Linked DNA regions of Homo sapiens: region 2 is linked to region 1. The links come from fine-mapping of genetic effects on gene expression. Tissue or cell type: thyroid. Region 1 holds a variant in brackets; the other region holds the start of a gene. All regions are shown on one strand. Distances are between the middles of the regions.

The links. PIP is the estimated chance that this variant, and not a neighbour inherited with it, causes the effect. A credible set is the group of variants that fine-mapping cannot tell apart.
Region 2: PNCK starts here. The variant in region 1 is the best candidate, but not a certain one, in a credible set for the expression of PNCK in thyroid (GTEx, PIP 0.79).

What each region holds. Positions count from the first base shown.
Region 1 is chrX:153,698,815-153,701,704 of GRCh38, reverse strand. It overlaps BCAP31 (B cell receptor associated protein 31), which reads left to right. Exons shown (of 8, transcript NM_001256447.2): 8 at 730-1,213. The coding sequence ends at 768. Among named protein-coding and RNA genes, the nearest start is that of SLC6A8, 12 kb to the right of the region's middle. The variant T/A (reference allele first, on the strand shown) is at 1,684.
Region 2 is chrX:153,672,822-153,675,711 of GRCh38, reverse strand. PNCK (pregnancy up-regulated nonubiquitous CaM kinase) reads left to right here and starts at 1,899. Exons shown (of 12, transcript NM_001366977.1): 1 at 1,899-1,932; 2 at 2,634-2,703. The coding sequence starts at 2,636.

The sequences.
Region 1 (2,890 bases):
GCAGGTGAAACTCTGGGACCCACTGCTGGCCTTCTTTCCTAGGGTGCTGGGGAGTGACGTAGGGCAAAGATCCCTGGGCAAGTGAGGGCACAAGGTGTCAAAAAGGCACCTTCCCTAGCAGGCGCTAGTTGTGGCCATCACCTGCTGCCCTAGGCCTGATCTGAGTCCTCAGACTAGCTTGGGTGCACCAGGCCGCATCTGGAAGCCCAGGCGGTCTTGACGTTGGGAGTGAGGGCCACATAAATACTCCTAACTTTGGACAGCTGGCCTCAGTGCTTGGTGGCCCAAGTTTGGGCACCACAGCAGGTGGGGAGGAAGGGTCCAGCCTCAAAGGGGGCACCCATGCCCTCTGTATGGGGCAGGCTTGGCAGATGGGCTTCGAGGGCACCTGTCAAAGGTGTGCAGAGTTGGGAAGGGTCTGATCAGGTCTTGAAGGGGACTGGATGCCTTGCTGTTCCCTGCAGCCAGGACTCAGCCCCCAGTGAGGTCCTGGCAGTCCTCCCTGGCTGGCGTTAGGTCCAGGGCTTTCCCTAGAGCGTGGGCCAGGGCTGACGCTCCCACCCTGGCAGGCCTTTGGGTGCAGCTGGGGAGGGGGCCCCTTGTTCACTTGAATAGCTGTTGTTAGGAGAGAGGGGAACCGAGGTGGACCTCTGGGGCATGGGGCTGGAGGTGGCAGGGGAGGAGTGGACCCGGCCAACCTACTGCTGTGGGATTTCTGTCCCTTTCCAGGCTGCAGTAGATGGTCCCATGGACAAGAAGGAAGAGTAAGGGCCTCCTTCCTCCCCTGCCTGCAGCTGGCTTCCACCTGGCACGTGCCTGCTGCTTCCTGAGAGCCCGGCCTCTCCCTCCAGTACTTCTGTTTGTGCCCTTCTGCTTCCCCCATTCCCTTCCACAGCTCATAGCTCGTCATCTCGGCCCTTGTCCACACTCTCCAAGCACATTACAGGGGACCTGATTGCTACACGTTCAGAATGCGTTTGCTGTCATCCTGCTTGGCCTGGCCAGGCCTGGCACAGCCTTGGCTTCCACGCCTGAGCGTGGAGAGCACGAGTTAGTTGTAGTCCGGCTTGCGGTGGGGCTGACTTCCTGTTGGTTTGAGCCCCTTTTTGTTTTGCCCTCTGGGTGTTTTCTTTGGTCCCGCAGGAGGGTGGGTGGAGCAGGTGGACTGGAGTTTCTCTTGAGGGCAATAAAAGTTGTCATGGTGTGTACGTGGTGCGGTGTGTGACTGCAGCTGTGGGGAGGGCTCTGCTTTCTCTCCTGCCTGGAGCCCCCAAGCGGCCACAGCCCTTCAACCTGTTTCCCCCACTGAAGGCCAGGCTCACACCTGTTCTCGAAGGCCTTGCCCTCTCTGTCCTCCTGCTCCCCGGGCTGGGCCAGGCCTCGCTTCAGGGCCACCCGCCGAGTGTGTGTCCTGTCTGCCTCCCTGGGTGTGGGCAGCTTGGGAGGCTCAGTAAACCGGCGGGGCTTCCGGGTAGAGGACTCGCTTGCCTTCTCTGGGTTCCTGTTCGTCACATTTGGGACAGACAGAACGTGGCAGAACGCCACTAGTCACTCCCTGCCCCCCCCCCCGAAGGTTTGCAGGATGACCTCTGACTAATGCCAGCTGGGAGAGGAGACTTGTCCTTGGCAGTGACCTGGAGCTGGCCCAGGGCAGAGCTAGGCAGAAAGGGGCTGGGAATGGGC[T/A]GGGGCCCTTGGCCCTGAGAACGTGCTGGGTGTGTGCCTGCCACCAGAGCGCTGTGCTGGCTCCAGGGTGTCCCTCCCGTGGCTCCCTCAGAGCTGTGTCTTCCAGGCCCACAGCAAGCCAGGCCAGTACCGGGGCTTCCTGCCTGGCACCAGTGCCCAGGCCCCTGCACTGTGCTACTCTCCAGTAGCACATGAGGAAGGCAGCCCCCGCCCGCAGCACAGTGCTTCCACCCTGCAGGGCCTCTGCCATGCCTGGTGTCTGCATGAGGACTGGGCGGAAGGGTCAGGGGAGCAGGTTAGAGGTGTGTCTCCTGGAACTGGGGGGACCCCTGAAGGATGTTGATGCTGGCAGGGTAGCTGACGGCCTGCTGTGCATGCTCGCTTCTGCCTGCCCTGTCCGGGCCCAGGCCAGTGGTTCCCTTCTCTAGCATCCTGTCGCCCTTCCCTTGTGCTCAGAGCACAGCCGCCTCATGACGAGTTCTGTCCCTTTCCAGGCGGTCTGAGAGGTGGTGTCTGAGGGAGTAGGGGACACGTGGGCGATACCCTCTGGTTGCTGTGCCAAGGCCGAAGGCTGATCCCACTTTTCCAGGAAGTGCTCTCAGCTACCTTGGACCTCCCTGAGCTCACCCTTCTCTGAGCTTTGAAAGGCTAAAGTCCAAACGGGTGCTTCCCTCACCAGCCCTGATGGCTTCTTCCGCTGTTCTGCCTAGGCCAGCAGCAGACAGAAAGCTGCACGAGGCCAGCTTCTGGAGCGCCCTTTCTAGTGGAGTGATGGAACAACAACGGGGCAGGGGGTGTGGGCACAGGCTCTTAGAGATGAAAATTGAGGTGCTTGCCCAGCCTAGACTGGAGGGCGGCCTGCAGGCTCGCGCCTTCCTGGATCAGCTTCTGTTCCAGGGCATCTGCACCCGTGGGCGTCCTGATCTGTTTTCTTACCCATCTTCCACTAGACTGCGAGCTGCTTGAGGGCAAAGCCTGCTGCTTGTTGATCTCTGTGTCCTAACCCCTGATGCAGGAGCTAAGTCCTGAGGAAATGGTGTCTCTATTTCAGGACCCTCTTTAAGTGACAGGCCTCTGTGAAGTTTCCTTTTTTCAATGTCTTTTTTCTGTGTGTTTAGTGTCATCGTGGTGCATGAGGTGGCTTGGAGGGCATTTGGCCTGGAGGTGCGGAGAACAATTAGCAGAGGGTGATTGTCATCCAGGCAGA
Region 2 (2,890 bases), 26 kb after region 1:
TCTACTAAAAATACAAAAATTAGCTTGGTGTGGTGGCATGCACCTGTAGTCCCAGCTACTCGAGGCTGAGGCGGGAGAATTGCTTGAACCCAGGAGGCAGAGGCTGCAGTGAGCTGAGATGGCACTACTGCACTCCAGCCTGGGCGACAGTGAGACCCTGTCTCAAACAACAACAACAATAACAAACCAAAAAAAACCCCATGATACAATGATTCAAACAAAAACTGTGCCATCAGCTTTTACATGAGGCCAGGGCCACCTGAGTCACCTCGTGGACCAATACCTGCCCGCTGGCTCGTCTTTCCCAGGCCCACTTTGGAGGTGGGTGCTTTCCTTCTGGCCTCCAGTTTCCATCTGCTGCCCCTCAGATAGGTCTCTTTGTGCCATCTCTTTCCACGCGGGCAGTTTTTTATTACTTTTCTGGGGCACAGAAATATGTGTATTTCTATTTCTTTTTATAACCCAGGACCATGTTGTAGAACTCTGCTTGGGCAAAGCACCATTGGCGTATTAGACATTCTGGGGAACTATCTGTAGGTATCTGTAAACAAATTGCACTTCCTGCTGTCATGAGAAGGGGCTCACCATCAGTTCCATTCCTATTTTTTTCTGTTTTAGATGTCGGTCCCAGGAAACCATTTTCACATAGAGGAGCAGGTGGGACTGGAGTTTCTGAGTGCTGGGGTCCCTGGAGCCTTCTGCAGTGTCCTGGGAGGGGTGACTGGGAAAGGCCAGGGGGCAAGAGCTGCTAGGGGCCTTCTCAGATTTCCCAGTTTTTACACAGAGTATATATGGGAGTTGAGGTCTGGAAAAATGATTTTTTAAAAACTCTTCCTGCCCCGTGGACTCTCTTGAAGACGTCGTGTCATGCCAGGGCCCACGGTCACTTGACGGAACCCTTGTGATGCTGGCCACAACCTCATGGGACTGGATGGCGAGCAGCGAGGGGGGTCCAGTAACTGTTGGATGCAGGATTGAATTCGGTCACCCGCACTTATTTCCTGGGCTCGTCTTGGTTGGGTTCGCGGAGATACACTCTCTGGGAGCGGACGCTTTGGTGAGGAAGACCAGGCGAAGAAGGTGATTTTTGCGGTTGGACGTTCTAAAGACAGGGCAGGGTTATGCGGAGAGAATTGGCAGGGGCAGGGCGGGGGAGGCCGGTTTGAGGAGGGGACATTTGAGCCGAGATCTGATGGAACGAGGAGCCAAGCCAGGCAGATATCTGATCGAAGAACATTCCAGGCAGGGGAGCAAAGGCTAGGGCCGTCAGGAGGCCAGTGTGGCCGGGGAAGAGGTGGAGGAGGAGGGGCCAGGGCAGTCGTTAGGCCGCCCCCTAAGGACTCATGCTTTGACTTGGATTGACATAGAGAGCTGCAGGAGGGTGACATGATCTCAATAAAAGGAATGCTCTGGCTGCTGGGTAGAGAAGAAAGCGAGGGTGAGGGATTAATGGTGGAGCCAGAGGGAGCCCAGTGAGTGCCGGGAGCCCAGGGTGGCAGAGCTGTGGTGCAGGGTTGCAGGGTCCTGGAGCTAGGCATGGAGGCTGCTTTCGGGCAAGTGGCCGGGTCAGCCTGTCCTCGGAGAGGCGGTGAAGGCAGAGACTGGAAGGCAGAGAGCCTTGCCGACCTGTGGCCGAAGAGCTCTCCGGGAGACAGCCACCGGTGGTGCAAAGGCCCTGGGGCCGGCCCAGCCGGGCCGCAGCTCCGGGAGGCGGCGCGAGCGAGCAGTGGGCTGGGCGGTGGCGGCCGGCACCCGAGCCGGATCCCGGCGATTGCCTTACAAGGTGCCCTGCGGCGCCGCGGCCGCGCTGGGCCACTGCGTGCTTGGGCGGCTGGCGGGGGCGTGCGCGGAGGGGGCGGGGCCGGCGGGGCGCGGGCGGGGGGCTTGGCGCTGCGGCCACTGCGCGGCACGACGCTGCGGCACCCGCTCCAGGTCTGCACCTGCTCCGGGGCGCGGGGACGCGCGGGGCGGGGGCGCACCGGATCCGGCCCGCGGCCGCCGCAGCCTTGCGCGTCCGCAGCACACCTGTCACGCCTGGCGCGCCCCCTGCCCGCACGCGCTCGGTCCACGCAGCTCGGGACGCGGGCGGCCCAGGCTGCCAGGTCCCCCTGCTCCGCGGCGCCGAGGGCTGGGCTGCGTCTGCGGCCGCGTGGGTGGCCGCGGTCTTGGCAGGTGGCTGCGCGCGGGGGTCGCAGGTGCATCCCGGGCGGCTTGGTGGCTTGGGCAGCGGGTGCCTGTGGGCGCTGTGCCATGGGTGGCGGGTCTAGGCGGGGGTGGGGGCTTGGGCGCTGTAGATGTGTGGATGGGGGAGGGACGGCGTGGGTGAGCATGGAGCCTTCTGGAAAGCGGCCGGATGTGTGGAGGCAGAGAGGCAGCATCCAGGCGCTGGTCGCCTTCGGGGTGCGGGGGAGGGTGCGTGGGATAGCAGCTGTAGGCCTGGGATGTGGAGGCGTGTATGCGGTGGCCTCGCTGGGAGGCGTCCGTCTGGGGGTGTGGACCTGGACGGGGGAGGGGAGGGTCGAGCGCGCAGCGGCAATGGCTGAGGCCTGCCTGGCAGGGGGTGGAGGAGGAAGCTGCCCTTGCCCCCGGCGGGGCGGGGAGAGACCCCCATCACCTCTCCCCTGCCCCTGCAGACATGCTGCTGCTGAAGAAACACACGGAGGACATCAGCAGCGTCTACGAGATCCGCGAGAGGCTCGGCTCGTGAGTGTGCGCGCGCGTGTGTGATCGTGTGTGTGTGTGTGTGTGTGTGTGTGTACCTGTGTGAGATGGCATGTGTGTGTGACTACGCGAGTGGGTGTGAGATGATGTGTGTGTGTGTGAATATGTAGGGGTGTGTGAATGTGAGTGAGTCTGTGAGATGGCATGTGTGAGTGGTGGTGGGGGGTGG